Regions from separate parts of the Homo sapiens genome. Here regions 2, 3, 4 and 5 are each linked to region 1. Evidence: fine-mapped expression QTL. A gene starts in region 1. Each other region holds a variant in brackets. All regions are shown on one strand. Distances are from middle to middle. Region 1 holds the start of LRRC8B (leucine rich repeat containing 8 VRAC subunit B). Region 2 overlaps LRRC8B (leucine rich repeat containing 8 VRAC subunit B). Region 3 has its middle 33 kb from the start of LRRC8C-DT. Region 4 overlaps LRRC8B (leucine rich repeat containing 8 VRAC subunit B). Region 5 holds the start of LOC124904216 (a long non-coding RNA gene).

Evidence for each region. PIP is the estimated chance that this variant, and not a neighbour inherited with it, causes the effect. A credible set is the group of variants that fine-mapping cannot tell apart.
Region 2: its variant is the best candidate, but not a certain one, in a credible set for the expression of LRRC8B in testis (GTEx, PIP 0.71).
Region 3: its variant is the best candidate, but not a certain one, in a credible set for the expression of LRRC8B in whole blood (INTERVAL, PIP 0.90).
Region 4: its variant is the best candidate, but not a certain one, in a credible set for the expression of LRRC8B in subcutaneous fat (GTEx, PIP 0.57).
Region 5: its variant is the best candidate, but not a certain one, in a credible set for the expression of LRRC8B in whole blood (INTERVAL, PIP 0.76).

The regions. Positions count from the first base shown.
Region 1 is chr1:89,523,112-89,527,230 of GRCh38, forward strand. LRRC8B (leucine rich repeat containing 8 VRAC subunit B) reads left to right here and starts at 1,718. Exons shown (of 6, transcript NM_001369817.2): 1 at 1,718-1,911. RefSeq lists a silencer at 1,582-2,041 and enhancers at 2,743-3,244, 3,245-3,746.
Region 2 is chr1:89,580,730-89,584,848 of GRCh38, forward strand. LRRC8B (leucine rich repeat containing 8 VRAC subunit B) reads left to right here. Exons shown (of 6, transcript NM_001369817.2): 5 at 1,896-4,060. The coding sequence starts at 1,922. Among named protein-coding and RNA genes, the nearest start is that of LRRC8C-DT, 50 kb to the right of the region's middle. The variant C/T (reference allele first, on the strand shown) is at 1,960.
Region 3 is chr1:89,598,030-89,602,148 of GRCh38, forward strand. No RefSeq gene overlaps it. Among named protein-coding and RNA genes, the nearest start is that of LRRC8C-DT, 33 kb to the right of the region's middle. RefSeq lists enhancers at 174-690, 2,738-2,987. The variant G/GT (reference allele first, on the strand shown) is at 1,903.
Region 4 is chr1:89,570,742-89,574,860 of GRCh38, forward strand. The region is part of intron 3 of LRRC8B (leucine rich repeat containing 8 VRAC subunit B); the gene reads left to right. Among named protein-coding and RNA genes, the nearest start is that of LRRC8B, 48 kb to the left of the region's middle. The variant T/C (reference allele first, on the strand shown) is at 2,483.
Region 5 is chr1:89,549,694-89,553,812 of GRCh38, forward strand. All of the region lies in intron 1 of LRRC8B (leucine rich repeat containing 8 VRAC subunit B), which reads left to right. LOC124904216 (a long non-coding RNA gene) reads right to left here and starts at 1,196. Exons shown (of 3, transcript XR_007066214.1): 1 at 1,167-1,196; 2 at 791-858. The variant G/A (reference allele first, on the strand shown) is at 1,643.

The DNA.
Region 1 (4,119 bases):
TTCCTGTATTTGTGCTTTCTCCTGGGGAATGTCCTTAACCTTGGCAAAATAAACCTCTAAAACGATTGAGACCTGCCTGTCATTTTTTTGGTGCTTAAAATCCATGATGGAATTTTTAATCACTATTTTAGACTTGGGTAAATCTGGCTGTGAAAGTAGTGACAGAGTCTTTTAGAATTTTCTTCTACCAAAAATAATTAATCAGAAAGTCCCTGAGAGAATTTCAGATACTCCTGTAAGGATCAAACCTAAATTTAAATTAGACTTGTAGATCTGTGCATACCCAGTGTCTCACACATATAAACTCAATAAAAATTTATCGAATGACCAAGTGAAGAAATGTTCTTTCAGCTTTTCCTTCAAGACTCAGAAAAAAGATATCTGCAGTTCCAGAATGGACTGAGTGAACAAGAAAAGAACAGATCAGTGACACAAAGACAGCCTTCTTTTTCCCTTTCAGGGTGACTCAAATTGTAGTCCTCATCTGAACAGTCTGAGACACAACTCTTGTCTCATATTAACTCGATAGGGCATTTGCTATACTCCCATTTACACAAACTGCTCAGATGCCCCAAATGCTGAGTCTGTTCGTCTTCATTTTATTCCTTTGGGAGATGCCGGTACAAACTTGTTTTTTCTTTCTTTTTTTAAATGGAGATGTGACCACCATAGCAACTAAAAGACATAAATCTTGCCTAATTGAATCAGTGTGCTCAAGATAATAGCCAGGGCAGAGACTGAGTTAAAACTGGGGTAAGGGTGAGAGTGGGGAAATGGATGAGGATGATAAAAATATTTATGTCCCTAGAATTTGTGGGTTTGGATTAATTCTGTTTCGTAAGGAATATTGTTGGCCTTCAAATGCAGTGCCACTTGGGAGAGAAGCAAGCGGGCAGTAGTTGAGGTGTCTCTGCAGTTGAATCGCAGTGAAAGGCAGGTTATGAGTATAGGGACCGCCCCTCGGCCATGTGGTCCCCTCCCTATCCTGAGGATAACGACATTTGAGAGAAGCCAATGGTATTGGAAGGCCAGAATCGAACTTAAGCCGCTTAGTTGGTACAACTGTAAACCCTCCCTCACAGAGGCTGGGCCCTGCAATCTTTCTAAGCAGGGTAAAGAAAAGTAAGGGGACTTCCTTTTCGAAGAGGAGGTTCCCGCGTGCTGCACCCGACCTTTCCCTCAGGGCCCAACACGCGTTATATAAATGCCAAGTTACTCAGGGACGCACACGTGAGAAGGCTGGGGCCCGACACACGCGGTGTAGTGCCGAAGTCACCGGTGTGGCGCGCCTGGGGGACACGCCGAAGCCCATTTCCCTCCCGCTTCTGGAAAGCAGTCCCCGCTCTTTCCAGCTGCTCCGCGGGGCGTATGGCTGTGCGCTACCTCCTGCGGACCCCAGGCTGGGCGAGGGGGCAGCGATGGCCACATGGCGCGCTCGGGGAGATGGCAGCTGCGCTTTGTTTCCAGCAGTGATAGGTGAGTCACTGGCTCCCGCAGCCCCAGAGCTGGGCAAACACTCAGGCCCAGGCAGCTGAAAAATTCACAGCAGGAGCAGCTACCGAAGCGACTGCAGCCTCTTCCTCCTCTTCCTCCTCCTCCTCCTCCTCCGCCACTGCTACCGCCACCACCGTGGTAGCCGCCTCCGCGCCCTGCCTCCGCCCCGTCCCCTCCTCCTCCACCCGCGAACTTAGTCAGCGGTTCGCGCCGCCGAGCGCCCATTGGCCAGCGGAACGCGTCGCGTCACAATGGAGCCGGTCGGAGGCGGCGAGCCGGACAGCGCCGGGGCTTCCCGCTGAGCCCGCAGCCTCCGGCAGCCGGGAAAGTGCGGGCGCGGGGCCGCAGCCTGCCCGCCCGGAGCGGCCCAGGAGCACGCCGCGGGGAGCGCGGGCGTCCGGGGCTGGAGTCGCGCAGGTAGGTCGGAGCGTGACACCCCGGTTCCAGGAGGGCGAGCCGCGCCGACCGAGGTGGTGGAGGAGGAGGACCGGATACGGGGACGCAGCAGGTGGGGCTGGCCGAACAGGTGCGGTTACCTGTTCACGCCTCACCTGCGAGCCAGGCTGCGGGCCGGTAGCGCGGCTGCAGAGACGAGTGGCCGCTTCGTTGTGCTCCCTGCCTTCGGGAGAGACGGAGTCCCACGCTGAGAGGACCTCTCCTGTGTGCTGGGGTCATTTGGAGCAAGAGGTGTGGGCGGTCGCGCCGAGACGGTCACCTCTCTTTCCCCCGGGAGTCTCGGCGTTGCACCTGAGCGTGAGTCCTCGGGGCGGGGCGGGAAAGGGGTTCCGCTTTCCCAGGCTGGCGTCTCGCTCCAGATGAGCGCAACTCCCCTGAGGGTGCCCCCATTTGGTCGCTCTGTTTTGCCCCCTGCGCTGGCGCTGTTGGGAACTATTTTATGCTCTTGGGAACTATTTTATGCTGTTGGATACGCGTTGGTTGCCTATAATTTGGTGGTGGTGTTGGGCGTTGATTTGTTTGAGAAAGAAAGGGCAAGCGTTACCAATTTAAGAAGAAGACTCAAGAGTTTCCCCTGAGCTTAGTTGAGCAGGTGCTGAGAGGTCAGAAGGGAGGAGGCTCAGTATTGGCTCATTAATCTGTGTGCTCAACTGACTTCCTAAAGTCCATAGATTGCCTTTAGTTAGATGACATTTGTGGAAAACTTTTTTTTTCTTTGTGGTCAAAAAGACACCCCTCTAAAAGAACAAAACCGACATGTGAACTTCCTTGAATAAATTCACTTCGCCTAAAGACTTCAAACAAACAAACAAAAAAACACTCCACTGGTAAAAGATAACAGTATGAACATTTTAAATTGTAGATATATAGCCAAATTAAAACAGGCAATTTGTTCAGCGTATATTAAGAAGACATTACGTAGCATGATTTTTATTAAAAGACAACCTATTTGCAAATGATATAGTAGTCTTTGCAGAACACCCCAGAAATCTTAAAACAGATTTATCTTTATCAGATGGTTCTGTCCCCTAAACCTAGGTGTAGGAGTGAGGATGGAAAAGAAGTCAAACTGCAGTGTAATTTTTTAAACAATTCCAGTACCCTCTATGTGTACAGGCTACACCTCCTGAGAACCCCAAATGCTCTTTGTTTTGTTTCTTTGTTTTGTTTTGAGACGGAGTCTCACTCTGTCGCCCAGGCTGGAGTGCAGTAGTGCGATCTCGGCTCACTGCAACCTCCACCTCCTGGGTTCAAGTGATTCTCCTGCCTCAGCCTCCCGAGTAGCGGGGACTACAGGGGCCCGCCACCACGCCCAGCTAATTTTTATATTTTTAGTGGTGGCGGGGTTTCACCATGTTGGCCAGGCTGGTCTGAAACTCCTGACCTCAAGTGACCCACCCACCTCGGCCTCCCAAAGTGCTGGGATTACAGGTGTGACCCCAAATGCTCTCTGAATTGTGGGTGCCGAGGTGACTTTCTTTTTCTCCTGGCTTTCCTTGTCAGCAGCTCTACTCAGAGAATATAAAGTGACAGCCAACCCCCAAGGTAATTGGGCCTGTGTAATTTTAGAATATAAGCCCTAACATGTCTGATATTTCTGTAAGCTAAAAAGAGGTCTCTTGAATGGGGGTGATGTTGTCATTGAGTGCACCCTTGGGTCATGGCACTTTCCTTATACTTAGTATCCCCAACAACATTTTTAAATCTGCATGTCGGAATTAAGTTTACCATTCTTTGAAATGTGTTCTCTTTTTCCTCAATTGGTAAGGTGTTCCAACATGTTCAGCCTATTATGAATCTTTTCACATTTTGAATGATTTCATTTGACTAGTTGAGATTTGCTTTTTTAAACCTCTTCTCTACCACTATCACCATTTCCCATTGCTATTTTAATTTTCAGAATCCTCAGAGTGAAAACACCAACAGTAAGTAAAATGAAAAGGGGCTTAATAAAACTTAAAGGATACTAAGCCTTCCAAGTTTTTTAGACTAATCCATGTATTTTCCTGTAGTGGCCTGAAATTTGTTATTTTTTGTTGTTTTCTGAAGTTTAAGGGGAAAAATATTTTACAATTTAGAACATCCTTGTTTTAGCCAATGTTTTTCTTATAAACAAGGGTTTTTGTTTTTGTATTTTAGTTTTCAAATTCTTCTAATAGTACCTGAGTA
Region 2 (4,119 bases), 58 kb after region 1:
TAGGTCCTAGGAGGAAGGTGAATCCATATAATATTATGTGATACCCAGAGAGGACACAAGCAGAAAGTAGTGCTCCAGTCCAGCAGTTAAGCTCAGAAATTGTAAAATGCCTTAACAGGTACAAGAGCATGAAGCTGTAGGGTTCAGGGTCAGATGGTCAGGAATATGCTGAGGATGAGACTTATTAACAGGGAGCAGGGACTCTGTAATGGGACTCTAAGGTTCAAGGCAGGATACCAGACCCCAGAAAGAGGGCAAATGAGAGTAAAAAAGTCTTCCTGGCCAGGCACAGTGGCTCAGGCCTATAATCTCAGCTCTTTGAGAGGCCAAGGTGGGCAGATCATGAGGTCAGGAGTTCGAGACCAGCCTGGCCAACATGGTGAAACCCCATCTCCTGTCTCTACTAAAAAGACACAAAAATTAGCTGGGCGTGATGCCATGTGCCTGTAGTCCCAGCTGCTCGGGAGGCTGAGGCGGGAGGATTGTTTGGACCCAGGAGGTGGAGGTTTCAGTGAGCTGAGATCACGCCACTAGACTCCGTCTCAAAAAAAAAAAAAAAAAAAAAAAAGGCTTCCTTGGGGATGCTACTAATACTAGAGTGTCTAGAGAGTAACTCTGGCCCAGAATAAATGATAAGACTTCAGACTCAAGAAAATCCAAGAGAAACCCTTGAAAATAGATTAGAGCTGGACTACCAGCAAGGGGGCACCATGCTACCATTATTATTTTTCTTCTTTTTCTTATCAGATATTTTCTAAGACCCACATATTTCCTTTTACTTTACTCTGTGCCATCTTATAGATCATCTGGATTTTACTGATTAGCAATTTTTGAAACAATTGATGTATGTAAGACTCAACATAGAAATTCTCAGGAATGTTGTCTGAATACTTTTCAGTATGAAAATACAAGATAATCTTGTTTTCCTGAAGGCAAAAGTAATTTAATAATGGAATATGCCTCCATCGTTTATCCTTTTAGTACTTTGCCATCACAACATTAAACATGAGAGGGAGTCCCCATGATAGAATATTCTAGCAGAGCTTTTCTTTCTTATTCTTTTTTAAGCCATAACTTTTAAATACTTCCCAACTTTTAAATACTCTAAGTTTTTTCATACTCATGTACTTAAATTACAAAGCGAAAGCTTGTGTGGAAAGGAGATAATGCATTCAGTGACAGGTTGTTCTGGGCATAGAATTGTAGACCCCACTAAGCCTAAGGGGTAATTTCACAAAGCAGAGCTTGCTTAAAAGAGGCTCCTTGTGGTGACTAAAACAACTCTTGGGCTGTAAGTGATGCTTCAGACATGGGACAAGGTGTGGAAAGGAGCTTACTCAGACATTTTGGAAGGTAAAATGTGACCACTGGAAATTAGGTGGCTGGCTGTGGTGACTCATAGCTGTAATTCCAGCACTTTCAGAGGCCAAGCAGGGAGGATCACTTGAGGCCAAGAGTCTGAGGCCTGTGAGACCCTGTCTCAAAAAAAAAAGGAAGAAAAAAAGAAAGAAAGAAAGAAAAAAATATTAGTAGCATAGGAACAAGTTTTTCAAATGTCAGTTGAAGAAAAATTGGCTCCTGGTTTTTAGTAGCCTAGCCTGGAGTTGAGATACAAGAGGTAACGAGATAATTACCTCAAGGGCTACCCCTAAATTTCTTTCTAGTCAGTATCACTAAATGGTCCCCCATCTAAGAGACTATGGTTCAGAGTTGGATGGCCTATAGTTTCAAATGAAACCAGAAGACTTATGTGCCCCTTAATCAGCTCTTCCTTTTAGGTTTTACCCCAGAGCTAAATCCTACTTGGGAAGGAGGGCATGTGTGTATGAATATTAGAGTAAAATGCTTATTTGAGTACTTGCTTCAGTAGTGTTTCTTTTATTTCCCTCTTCCAGTTTCTGTCCTCCTACAAGGGAAAGTCATGATTACACTAACTGAGCTAAAATGCTTAGCAGATGC[C/T]CAGTCATCTTATCACATCTTAAAACCATGGTGGGACGTCTTCTGGTATTACATCACACTGATCATGCTGCTGGTGGCCGTGCTGGCCGGAGCTCTCCAGCTGACGCAGAGCAGGGTTCTGTGCTGTCTTCCATGCAAAGTGGAATTTGACAATCACTGTGCCGTGCCTTGGGACATCCTGAAAGCCAGCATGAACACATCCTCTAATCCTGGGACACCGCTTCCGCTCCCCCTCCGAATTCAGAATGACCTCCACCGACAGCAGTACTCCTATATTGATGCCGTCTGTTACGAGAAACAGCTCCATTGGTTTGCAAAGTTTTTCCCCTATCTGGTGCTCTTGCACACGCTCATCTTTGCAGCCTGCAGCAACTTTTGGCTTCACTACCCCAGTACCAGTTCCAGGCTCGAGCATTTTGTGGCCATCCTTCACAAGTGCTTCGATTCTCCATGGACCACCCGCGCCCTTTCAGAAACAGTGGCTGAGCAGTCAGTGAGGCCTCTGAAACTCTCCAAGTCCAAGATTTTGCTTTCGTCCTCAGGGTGTTCAGCTGACATAGATTCCGGCAAACAGTCATTGCCCTACCCACAGCCAGGTTTGGAGTCAGCTGGCATAGAAAGCCCAACTTCCAGTGTCCTGGACAAGAAGGAGGGTGAACAGGCCAAAGCCATCTTTGAAAAAGTGAAAAGATTCCGCATGCATGTGGAGCAGAAGGACATCATTTATAGAGTATATCTGAAACAGATAATAGTCAAAGTCATTTTGTTTGTGCTCATCATAACTTATGTTCCATATTTTTTAACCCACATCACTCTTGAAATCGACTGTTCAGTTGATGTGCAGGCTTTTACAGGATATAAGCGCTACCAGTGTGTCTATTCCTTGGCAGAAATCTTTAAGGTCCTGGCTTCATTTTATGTCATTTTGGTTATACTTTATGGTCTGACCTCTTCCTACAGCCTGTGGTGGATGCTGAGGAGTTCCCTGAAGCAATATTCCTTTGAGGCGTTAAGAGAAAAAAGCAACTACAGTGACATCCCTGATGTCAAGAATGACTTTGCCTTCATCCTTCATCTGGCTGATCAGTATGATCCTCTTTATTCCAAACGCTTCTCCATATTCCTATCAGAGGTCAGTGAGAACAAACTGAAACAGATCAACCTCAATAATGAATGGACAGTTGAGAAACTGAAAAGTAAGCTTGTGAAAAATGCCCAGGACAAGATAGAACTGCATCTTTTTATGCTCAACGGTCTTCCAGACAATGTCTTTGAGTTAACTGAAATGGAAGTGCTAAGCCTGGAGCTTATCCCAGAGGTGAAGCTGCCCTCTGCAGTCTCACAGCTGGTCAACCTCAAGGAGCTTCGTGTGTACCATTCATCTCTGGTCGTAGACCATCCTGCACTGGCCTTTCTAGAGGAGAATTTAAAAATCCTCCGCCTGAAATTTACTGAAATGGGAAAAATCCCACGCTGGGTATTTCACCTCAAGAATCTCAAGGAACTTTATCTTTCGGGCTGTGTTCTCCCTGAACAGTTGAGTACTATGCAGTTGGAGGGCTTTCAGGACTTAAAAAATCTAAGGACCCTGTACTTGAAGAGCAGCCTCTCCCGGATCCCACAAGTTGTTACAGACCTCCTGCCTTCATTGCAGAAACTGTCCCTTGATAATGAGGGAAGCAAACTGGTTGTGTTGAACAACTTGAAAAAGATGGTCAATCTGAAAAGCCTAGAACTGATCAGCTGTGACCTGGAACGCATCCCACATTCCATTTTCAGCCTGAATAATTTGCATGAGTTAGACCTAAGGGAAAATAACCTTAAAACTGTGGAAGAGATCATTAGCTTTCAGCATCTTCAGAATCTTTCCTGCTTAAAGTTGTGGCACAATAACATTGCTTATATTCCTGCACAGATTGGGGCATTATCTAACCTAGAGCAGCTCTCTTTGGACCATAATAATATTGAGAATCTGCCCTTGCAGCTTTTCCTATGCACTAAACTACATTATTTGGATCTAAGCTATAACCACTTGACCTTCATTCCAGAAGAAATCCAGTATCTGAGTAATTTGCAGTACTTTGCTGTGACCAACAACAATGTAAGTAAATCCATTCTTTCTTTTATTCAGTATCTGCCGTACTTATAGTGCATTACATA
Region 3 (4,119 bases), 75 kb after region 1:
TAACAAGCACCTGAAAAGAGCTGCGTGGATCCTAGAATACATGGGTTGCGGGGGGTAGTAGATCTCTCATGAGTGGGCCCGTCTTTCCTTGGAATTCATCAGGGACAGATGTTCATAGAACGCCTCATCTCTCTCCTTTCTTCTTGGTGCCTGTTTCTCCATTTCCTGTTTAACACTGAATTGTGAACCAGGTAAGCAAAAGCTAAAGAACTGCAAGACAGGCAATTCTGAGATGGTTTAGTCAAAGGTGAAAAAATTGAATTACTGGATAAAATAAGTACATGATAGTTTGAACTTTTCGATAGAAAACAGCCTCTCTCGGTCTCTTACATGCACACACACACACAGTTTCAGGACCACATTAGAAGGCTGATAGCCAGAATTTTGCTGGAATATATATAGACTGAATCAGATTATGAAGGAAAGTAACTTAGTTGTTCCCTGGCCATATTCTCTGAAAATGCAGTAAGTCATTCAAGAAAGGCTTCCCCCATCTCTAAGTGGTTCAGGAATGGGAAGTCTATTGAAATGAAGTGAGTGCCTGCCTCCAGGCATTAGCAGCCTTTCAGGGACTGCTAGGTGCTTTGAGATGCTGAAGTTATATGCTAACAGTCTGCCCAGCAGTGACATGGCCCCCTAAACACAGCAATAACTGTGGCTTCATGTACTTCAGCATTCACTTCCACATTTCAAAATGGCTTTTTGAAAAAGTGGTAAAGGGCTCAACTGGAAGGGAGAGACTCCGGTGCTGTTGAGGGCAAGGTTCCATTCTCTGGAGCGGCAACTTTTGTTATGGTTTGTTTCCTTCTCTGTTCCCACCTGGTGTTTTGTCACCCTCATTCCTGAGGTCTAGGGAAAAGCAGTTTATCCAAAATGCACAAAGCCAGACCTCAAACTCAAGTCCCATATTTACATAAGATCCTACATCGACATGCTAAAGAAGGATCAGAAAAGGCCACTTTAATATGCGTAGTCTTTTTAAAATGCAAATCTCTTTCTTTATCCCATGTTATCTCATCTTCCCCTAGACTCGAGTTATGTCTTTCTGCCTCCTAAATAGCAGAGATTCTATAGAGCTGCCTGTTAGCTCTTGAGATTTTCAAATTATTTCCTTATGATAAATACCTTCCATTTTGGAGCCCTTTGTATTCCTATAGGGCTCAATCCACATCATTTTTTTTACTCTCTACCTCCCTCTGCTGCTGAGAGGAGAAAATGTCAAATAGAAGCATGCCACCAACACCCATCTGTAGGTTAATATAACTCCAGATTCTTTCTTTTGGAAAAAAAGATTCATGCCTATCTTACTTACCTGCAAAGCCATCACAGATTCTCTCTGCTTTCCTTTAACACCAAACCTTCTGGTCAGCCCTATTTCCTCACTGAGTATTCACTTTTCAACCCACTTCTGTCCAGCTCTCCACATGTCCCAGTTTCTGCCCCTCCTGGTAATTTCTCTTACACAGATTACCAATCGCTTATTTGCCAAGAGCAGTGACTTCTCAGTCCTAGCCTCTGTAGGTAGAGTAGAAATGCTTTTTTAGGTTTATCAACATTTGTAAATCTTGGCCAACCTTCTTCCTCATGGAGCGTGGGCCTCACAATTGCAGGTGTAAAAGATTTACAAAGTTATGAATCAGCACTGACCCTGCAATTACTGTTTTGGAGCCTAGCCTCTCCTTCCTGATATGGTCCTTAAACCACAGCATCCAGTTTCTTGCTCCTATACTCAGTTTCTCCTTGCCTTCCCTTGCCTTTATCAAATGCAGCCCCCACGGTAAGATCTTGAGGATTCATTGGCCCTCACTTAATATCAGTAACTGTACCTCAAATGAGATGCACATAGCCCCATGCAGTTCCTGGCACCAAGATCAGACCATACCGTGTGGGCACCCTGGGCAG[G/GT]TAAGTGTGTGGTACCCCTTTAAAAGAACATGCTTAGAATGTTTATTCAACATGTTTTTGGTAGAAATGGGAAAACTGGCGTTCTGTTGGAAAAAACAATCATGAACATTTTAACTATCTTTGTATTCCTTTTTCCAAAACTAAAACTCTATCTAGCAAGAATGAGAAAGAGTTTAAAGATAATTTAGCAGAAAGACAAGTGGGCCTAGGGGCTGTAGGGAATATGAGGTTTTACAGCTCACGGCATTTCTGTCGAATATCCCCAATCGACAATCAGTCTCCCGGGCCTTGTGAGCAGGCCTGTCAGCTGCTAAGTCTCCCTTCTTGTTCCCTTTCAAAGCATCCTACTCTCTTTGTCCCGCACCCTTATCCCTCCCAGATCTCACTCCCTCCAACCACTTTTGTGGGCTCTTGCTCTCTTTCGCTTGCTCTAGGATTGTGCTGCTCGGCATTGCCCCAACCACCATACTCCAAGCTTACGTATCCTCACCTATTACTAACTCCCATCTTCAAGAATATGAAATACCTATTATTCCAAGGATGATGCTTTAGCTTGTTCTCACCAAAATACATGTCTCCCAGTTATCAAGATTCTCTGTTTCTAGAAGGTAGTTTCTTGCCACAGTTTCAAATTTAAAATAAGAGACTTATTCCTTATGTTGAATGGGAAAAGGGCCAAGTTTCATTTGTTAGGCTGCTAACATAAGGAATTACATGTGGAAACCTGAGTTAACTGGCACCAAATTTCCAATTACTCCAATGACATGTAGTTACTCCTTGTAAATTAATACCCCAGGCACCTGTTTAAGTGCACTTACCCTTAGTTCAGCACAGCCTAGCATGTGAGTACCTTGGATATGGCCATGACTATTTTCTTCTCAACAGGAATGAACGAGTTACCATTGTGGTGTGAAAAACTGTTTCTCCCTTGAAATGCTTCTCAGTCATTAAGGAGTAGGTGGGAAGGTTTCCCTTCTGGAGTTTCTGAAACTGCACCACTAGTGGGGGACTAAACACCACCTGTGTGAAGGGAGTTTCCTTCTAGTCTTTCCCTGAGCTTGGGTTGGATTCACACCCTTGTCTGTAGTAATGCATAGAGAAACTTCTCAGATCCTCAAGGGGAGAAAAGAACAGTTCTCTTTTTCAAGTGGATCAAACCACACTTTTCATAATAGATTGAGCCTTTCTCTGGCAGTTGTTCTGTGAAAAGGGAAAGCCTAAAGAAGTAGCCACGTGAAGAATTGATGCAACACGCATTAAGTGGCCTGAGGAAAATCTGCTTGGCTTGTGATATCAGAGCAGCACAATGCATGTCGGGAACCTCACTGGTGGCTTCAAATTGAGAAAAGAGAATAATCTAACTATTTAGTTCCTGATCCTTGAGTTTGGAGAGCATCACTGTAGGAAGAAGTATTGAGGTGGTATATGACAATAACTTTATTTTGCACCTCCTGTGTGCCAGGCAGTCTGCTAGGTTTTCCATGTGTACTCTCTCAATCCAGCCAACAACCCTATTTGGTATGTTGTTCTGATTTTACAGGTGAGAAAGAAGACTTTCAAATTATTACCATCCCAAGGTCTCATGACTGCTGAGAACAGGAACCATATTCAACCTACAGGTCTGCATAGCCTGTTTCTACAGAGATTAGCTGAACATTAAACATCAACTTTATCCTCTCATAACCACCTTGGAGTTTTGAAAACTCTGGTTTTCAGAGCTCAGTGGTCTCGTCCAGTCTGCTTTGATCCTAGTGCTTCCTCCTGCTCTATAGCTATCCTAGTTTCTATCTCCTCAGCCATAGTCACTTCCTGTATGTTTTATTTTCCTCCTCATCCTCTAATGTAATTCTGGATTCAGAGATCTTCCCAATGAGAAGAAACCATGGAGAATTTGCTGAGAAGGAAGGGTTAAGTGGCTTGTTGGAGATCACAGCCCCAGTGATTTAGGAAGATGGTACCATGATCTGTGCATGCCCCCGTTGAGTGCTCTTTTCACCCTACTGTGCTGGCTCTGAAGAGCACAGATAATCCGCATTTCACCAAAGACTAGTGGAAGAGCCAGATCAGCACCCATGTCTCCCACCTAACTCTAGAATCTGTGTATTCTCTAATAAGCTGCATTCATTTTAGTTGTAATCTGCATCTTAATGATAATCCCTTCCCATGCACAGTGCATCACTGTACCAGAGAACTTTAGGCCATTTTTCCCATTTCACA
Region 4 (4,119 bases), 48 kb after region 1:
TTTTGTTCCAATTGCTTTTGGCATCTTCATTATGAAATCTTTGCCCATGCTTATTGTCCTGAATGGTATTGCCTAGGTTGTCTTCCAGGGTTTTTATAATTTGGGGTTTTTATAATTTGGCCTTTAATCCATTTTGAGTTCGTTTTTGTATATGGTGTGAGGAAGGGGTCCAGTTTTAATCTTCTGTATATGGCTAGCCAGTTATCCGAGCACCATTTATCAAATAGGGAATCCTTTTCCCATTGCTTGTTTCTGTGTTGTTGAAGATCAGATAGTTGTAGGTATGCAGTCTTATTTCTGGGTTCTCTATTCTGTGCCATTGGTCTATGTGTCCGCTTTGTACCAGTACCATGCTATTTTTGGTTATTGTAGCCCTGTAGTATAGTTTGAAGTTTAGCAATGTGATGCCTCCAGCTTTGTTCCTTTTGCTTAGCATTGCCTTGGCTGTGCAGGTTCTTTTTTTGGTTCCATGTGAGTTTTAAAATAGTTTTTTCTAGTTCTGTGAAGAATTTCAATGGTAGTTTAATAGGAATAGCATTGAATCTATACATATATTGCTTTGAGCAATATGGACATTTTTAATGATACAGATTCTTCTTATCCATGACCATGGAATGTTTTTCCATTTCTTTTGTGTCATCTCCAATTTCTTTGAGCAATGGTTTGTAGTTCTCCCTAGTTATCTGTATTCCTAGGTATTTTATTCTTTTTGTGCCAGTTGTAAATGGGAGTTTGTCCCTGATTTGGCTCTCAACGTGACTGTTGTTGGTGTATAGGAATGCTAGTGATTTTCATACATTGATTTCGTATCTGGAGACTTTGCTGAAGTTACCAGCTTAAGAAGCTTTTGGGCTGAGACTGTGGGGTTTTCTAGATATAAAACCACGACATCACAAACAGGGATACTTTGATTTCCTCTTTTCCTATTTGGGTGCACTTTCTTTCTCTTGCCTGATTGCCCGGCAAAGACTTCAATACTATGTTGAACAGGAGTGGTGAGAGAGGGGATTATTGTTGTGTGCTGGTTTTCTTTCTTTCTTTTTTTTTTCTTTTTTGCTAAGGAATGTTTTACTTCCAATTATGTGATCAATTTTAGAGTTTGTACCATGTGGCAATGGCATTGAGAAGAATGTATATTCTGTTGTTTTGGTTGGATAGTTCTGTAGATATCTATCAGGTCCATTTGATTCAGTGCTGAGTTTAGGTCCTGAATATCTTTGTCAATTTTCTGTCTCAATGATCTGTCTAATATTGTCAGTGGGGTGTTAAAGTCTCCTACTATTTTTGATTGGGAGTCTAAGTCTCTTTAAGGTCTCTAAGAACTTGCTTTATGAATCTGGGTGTTCCTATGCTTATGAAGCTTCATTTGGCCAGATATGAAATTCTGGGTTAAAATTTCTTTTCTTTAAGAATGTTGAATATTGACCCCTAATGTCTTCTGGCTGGTAGGGTTTCAGCTGAGAGGTTCGCTATTAGTCTGAAGGGCTTTTCATTGTAGGCGACCTGACCTTTCTGTCTAGCTGCCTATTTAACATTTTGTCTTTCATTTCAACCTTAGATAATCTGTTGATTATGTGTCTTGGGGATGATCTCCTTGTGAAGTATCTTACTGAGGTTCTCTGCACTTCCTGAATTTGAATGTTGGCCTCTCTAGCTAGATTGGGGAAGTTTTCATGGATGATACCCTGAAATATGTTTTCCAGGTTGGTTCCATTCTCCCCATCTCTTTCAGGTAAACCAATCAGCTATAGATTCAGTCTTTTTATATAATCCCATATTTCTTGGAGGCTTTGTTCATTCAGAAAGGCCATCTTCCAACTTTGAGATTCTTTCGTCCACTTGGTCTCTGCTGTCTGCCTGTCATTTGAAAGGTGAGAGTGTGATTCAGAAGGGACTACATAGGGAGTGGGTTTTGTTCTACGTATTATGGCTTGCTTACTGTGGTGTTGGGGGGTGGTCAGGAAAATAGTCTTATAAACAGCAAAAGGTGATGGAGAAGGATTTGAGGTTGCCTTCTATTTACACCTTCTCTGTAAGAATTATCCAGCAACTAGTGGCTTATGCTTGTGTTAATATTACAAGAATATGGCTGCAACTTCTTTTATTTTAAATAGATTTTAGAAAATATGGTAGCTTACTAAAAACTTCAAAGAATTGAGAGATCTTTTCCTAAAGAGAAAAATATTATCTACATTAAATATATGATGTATTCTATAACTGCCAGAAATAAGTAAAAATGAAGCAATATTCCTTAAAGTTTAGGATAACTCAAATGTCGGCCAGGCACGGTGGTTCACGCCTGTAATCCCAGCACTTTGGGAGGCTGAGGTGGGCGGATCACGAGGTCAGGAGATCGAGACCATCCTAGCTAACATGGTGAAAACCCATCTCTACTAAAAATACAAAAAATTAGCCGGGCGTGGTGGCAGGCACCTGTAGTCCCAGCTACTCAGGAGGCTGAGGCAGGAGAAGGGTGTGAACC[T/C]GGGAGGCGGAGCTTGCAGTGAACCAAGATCGCGCCACTGCACTCCAGCCTGAGCACAGAGCAAGACTCCGTCTCAAAAAAAGAAAAAAAAAAAAAGAACAACTCAGATGTCATTAGGATTTCTAGAATTTTTCCATGGTTTTAATTCACTCAGTAACTTTTTTATTTAATTTATTACTTACTATTTATAATTATTTATTTTATTTCATTTATTCAATAACTTTCTCCAAGGGCTTCTGATGACTAGGGTGATTTTCCTAATGTTTAGAGTATTCATCAAATTGTTTCCCAGACCCATTATCTTACTACAGTTTTGGGTCAGAAGCTCTGGAATGGCAGTTGTATGTCTCTCTTCTCCTTTGGTTTCTGTGTATTATTTTATGATGATGTCAGCTTCTTTCCTTGAATTCTGATTTTTGTGTTCCAGAAATACTGTGCTTCTCCTTTACCTCACTGATCCTGCTTCTCTATCCTTTTTCAATCTTCCTTATCTAATAAACCTTCCTTATCTATTTTATAGAGGGGACAGCAATTCTGTCCTTCACTCACTAAATTCTTTCTCTCAGATAATTCATTTCTGTGGCACTGACCACCACTTAAGTGTTCATGACTTCCTACGGTGGGCTAAACATGGCTGCTAAGGCCTAGCAACTCTGCCTATCAAGAGGTGGAGTTGATATCCCCACCCTTGGAATCTGGCTGGCTGTGGTAGGTTTTTTGATCAATAGAATGTGGCAGAAATGGTGTGGAGTAATTTCCAAGGCTGGGCCTTAAGAGACTTGTAGCATCTGCTTTTGTGTGCTTGAAACATTCCTCTTAGATCTTAGTCTCTTGCTATGAGGAAGCCCAATTAGCCATATAGAGGACTGGCAAGGCCCCTGGTCGACAGCCGAAGCTGGGCTCCCAGCCAGCAATCAGTAGAAGCACCAGTGTTGTGACTTGAGGCACTTTGGGCCTTCTGAGTATTCTAGCATTCCAGCCCTCACCATGTGAACTGCCAGATCATCCCATAGAATCATGAGAAATTATGAATTGTTACTTTAGCCACTAAGTTTTGATGTGACTTGTTACACAGAATAAAGAATCAAAACAAAAATTGGTACCTAGAAGTGAGATGCTGGCATAACAAAAATCTGGCATTTTGGCTTTGAGACCAGGTGTCAGTGAAGGCCTGAAGGGCAGTTAGAATACTATTGCTATTGGAGGATGTCAAATGGTACCCTTGTTTTATATTGAGAAAAAAGTCAGCAAGACCATGACCTACAGTAACATGGAACATAGAAAATGAACCTAATGAACTTGTGGATCTAGCTCAGGAGATTTTCCAGCAAAATATCAGAAGCTCTGAGTGACCCCTTTAACTCCTTTTTTAACTCCCCTTTTTTTTTGATACTGTGATCAAAGTATTTCAAGAAAGAGACTAATTAAAGAAGAAACTATTTTAATTTTAAGCAGACTTTAGAGGAAGTATTTCCAATCCTGAATTTTCTCAGATTGTAAATCCGACTGTTTCTCATCCCCAGCTCCTCTACCCAGCAAAAGACCAGTTCCTCTACCCAGCAAAAGATACTCAAAGAAAGAAGTGGCCTCAGGTCCAAAGATCAGATCCAGAACATTACTGCCAGTAAAACTTGGGC
Region 5 (4,119 bases), 27 kb after region 1:
TTCATAAAAAACTAAATTGTCCCAACTTTAAATGGAAATATTCTGGAAGGAAGGTATTAAATGAGTTCTTTTATATGGGAGATGGACTGAGGCTGCATTGAGTTATTTATTTTAAATAACTTTTAAAATTTTACCAAGTGCAGGTCTTTAAGTCCAACATTGGCCCAAGTCTTCAGCAAAAACAGCTTAACAAACTCATTTATATTTTTTCCTCTCCCTAGGGCTCCAGTTTGTGTTTTCAGCTGCCTACTAGACCTCACTACCTGGATGGCCCACAGGTACTGCAAACTCAGTGTTTTAAATAACACACTCATTAGCCCCCTTCATCATTGACCCTGTGGCCAAAGCTAGGATAAGTCACTTGTCCTTGAGTCCTGACTCTCCTTAACATCTAATCTGCTACCAAGTCCTTCTAAGGGATACCTAAGGAGCCCTAGAGTCTATGCCCATAAGCTAGTTAGCAGAGAACCTGCTCGAAAGCACTTAAAAGTAATAGTAGTACTTTTGCTTCTATCCCCTCTTCTCTTCACACTCAGGCACATCTTAGTTCAAGCCACCTTTCCTGTTTATCATCTGGACAATTGATCTATCCTGATCTCCTCCCTATGTGTATTTCTCCTTTTTAACGAGTTGTTCATGCTGCTACCAAAGTGGCAAATTCTAACTTTTTAAATTTAAGATTTGACGCTGACTGGATTAAGTCACTCCCTTTCACAAATACCTTTTTGGGTTCAATAGAATGGTACCTGTGTCTCATTAGGTCTGGACCTAAATGGCCTTTTCATCTCACCTTCTTCAGCTTTCCCGCTAGGTTCACTTGCGAGAACAGTACTCAGTCAAACCTTAGCTATGCCAAACCTTTAATAAAGCATAAAAGATTAATTATGTTAATTATTAGCCTTGCTTTGATATGAAAGGGCAAAATTCACCAGTTAGCTCCTTGGTCTTCCACTGAATATTGGAATATTAACTAGCACTTTATAACAGAGCCTTTCACCAGCCCAACTTTACTGCTCTTCCCTTTTCCCAGCTCTCTAGTCAGCCAGAACCCACAGTTCTGCCTAAATTCCTTCATTCCTGGTCAGTCTCACTGATACTACCATGGTCTTCACTCTCACTGCTTCAGCATTGAATGACTGCAGTAGGTTCCTGCCTGGTTTCCTTACCTTCATTTCCCCCGGCCCCCGATCCTGCCCCATTGTATCTCTCATGCCTTACCAGGTTAGTTTTCCTAAAATATTGCTTGCATTCTATTTTAGAATCTATAATTGTTCTCTTTTGTAAGTCAATTCAAGCCATACTCTCATATTCTGGAATCTCCAACCGTAAATGTCCTCACTGCCTCATTTATTTGTGAAGTCGTCCCCCTCTGGCCGTGAAGATCCTCTGCAGCCTCACTGCTCTTCCTCAGGCAACACCCCTCTGCTCTTTCCCTCCCCACTACCCCGCTGGAGATTTTTTTCCTGCTCCAGCCCCTGCATATCCCTAACGGCTCAGAGATACCTTATCTATGTTGCCTTCTCCATTCCCTGAGCTATACCTGTTCATCTTACAAGAGGAAGCTTTGGATGGTTGGAAGAGCACCATGTTTGGTGTCAGTTATAGGATCAAGCTCTTGCTCACCAGCCATGTGTCATCAGCA[G/A]CTAATTTTTTTTCTCTCTGAGCTTGTATCCTTATCCTAAAGTCAAGTGTATGATTTAAATGACTATGAAAAAAATGCTCCATAAACTTTTGAGCATTATATAGATGTTCAGAGTTGTTCCACTCCACTATTTAATCCTTCATTTTTTTCCTGTTCACTTTTTGTACAAATTTCTCATTTTCCTAACTTTATAAGTGTTTTAAGGATAGATAGAAAATGAAATATACTTTCTTATCTTATTCAGCCCATACCACAGCAAATGCTCAATGAATTCTCCCTGTCAAGAGAATTCAATGAATATAAATATAAAGGATCAGGCTCTGTGGTGAAAGTGCAGTATTTGATAAAGTGAGTGAGGGAGTAACAAGAAAAGAGGGTCCCCAAAGAAAACGGGACTGACTAGCGGTCTGGCCTGCCTCAATACTTTTGGTGCGTCCACAGACAAGCTCTGAATGAGACCCACTAGCCAGGCTCTTCAACCTCTTAACACCATGGCAATAGAATTGACTCAGTTTCTTAAGTGTGACACTGTTCTTAAAACATAGTAGGCTCTCAAGTGTTTCTAGAATTCACTAGCCACATGATTTGATTATTATATATATTTATATACATGCATGTACCGTGCTAATAGATTTGTCTGTCACTGCTTATTTATTCATAGTTTTTTTTCCTTTTACATTTCATTCTTATACAGAGCAGCAGTATGTCTGCTTTGTCTGCAGAGTAGCACTAATATTCAGATTTGCATTGTGTTTGTGCAGTGTCTAATAGGGGCTACCTGATCACTTGCTGAAGTCATAGGTAGTTCAGGAACTACCTTCTTATTTAGATTGCTAGGACATTTTCATAAGAATATTGTACTGTATATAATACTAAGCTTACTCAAATCCTGCTTAAAATTAAAAATAAGTATAAAGAATAATAATTAGTAAATGAGAATATATTCTGTTTTTGCATGGTGTCTTCTAGCCCCTTCTCCCACACCCAATCTCCTTGGAATAAGAGATATGGTAATGGAGCCCAGAAATTCATGATCCTACTTAGTATCCATCTTAGCAGAAAAATGTAAACCATAGTGAGTTTTGTTTGCTAACACTATCCTTAGACAATAAGAATAATCGTTAGGTACTTATAATAACTCTCACTATGTTTAGGTTACTGAGTCAGTTAAAAGCAGACTAATCAGTAAAATACATTTTCTGGTTTTAGAGAGCTTATAATTTACAATAGATTAAAGGGAATGACAGTAACCACAGAAAAATAATTAAGAGAAATGTGATTTACTTGTTACCTAAGAAGCAAAAGATACATTTTTCTCCAAAGTAAGTCATTAAAGATTGCAATCGTTTATACCAGAGTTGATTTACTAGCATGAAAATGATTGCTTAACCCTGCTCCCTGTGTTCACCAGGCGGGTTGGTGAAAGCTTGTGTTTCAGATGAGCCAGCCTGGCTACAGGAAAAGATATTTGCATAGAAGACTGGGGACACTGCCACACAAGAAAATGAAGAATTATGCTTTTGAAATTCCTTTTATTACTTCCTTGATTAAATTGTTGTTTCCAAGGGAATTGGATTTTCAGATGAAATTTTAATAATGCTTCAGATAATTCCAATTGTGTTCTTTCATTTTACTCTGCTTTCACAATATGATCATATTTGGTTTCACTTCCTGGTTAGTGCACACAAGCCTGTTGCTGGGAAATATTTGAATAAAATGTTTATGAGAGAAGACTATTGTTTCAAAGTAGAGGAAGGCATTTTTGTTTGATTTAGACTTAGTTCATGTAGTAATTTTTATAGAAATAAAATTTCTGACATGTAAATTGGTTAAAAACACTCTTTAAAAATAATTTAAAAGACTTATTTCGCACTGAAATTAAGTTACCTTGTGGTGAAATCATCTCTTCTACAGAAGTGTTTGATTAGGTACCAGTTGTGCAACAAATGAAATGTTTGTCCATAATTAGAGTAATTGTAACTTGATTTTAAACAGAGGTTTGATTGCATGGTGAGTGTCATAATGCCAAATGATTTTTCCATTGATTCAGGGCCCAGTGTATTCTTAAGTTGATGTTTGATCTCAGCATGTTTAACCTGGCCCAGAATATATCTGGCACCCTTTTGTGTGTGTGTTGTAAATGACTGTTCTTCTGTGTTACAGCTTCATACAAAATCTTTGCCTATTCTAAAAGTGGTATTTTTACCATTAAGTATTTAATTCCACCAGAGTACTCAGGTATTACCTAGTCTAAAAAAGTACAAATCAAATTTATTTCTCTTTGGAAAAAGTCAGTTAAGAATTTCAGGAAACGTCTGCTTCCTTAAAATCTAATTACTTTGTCCATTTGCATCAGTTTACTGGCTAAATCTGAAAGTTTAATTTTTTAAAGCGTAACTATTTTTCTACTCAGAATTTTAATTTTGAAGTCCATTTATGTTTTATTTCTCAAGGTACCTAGATATATACCCTAATAT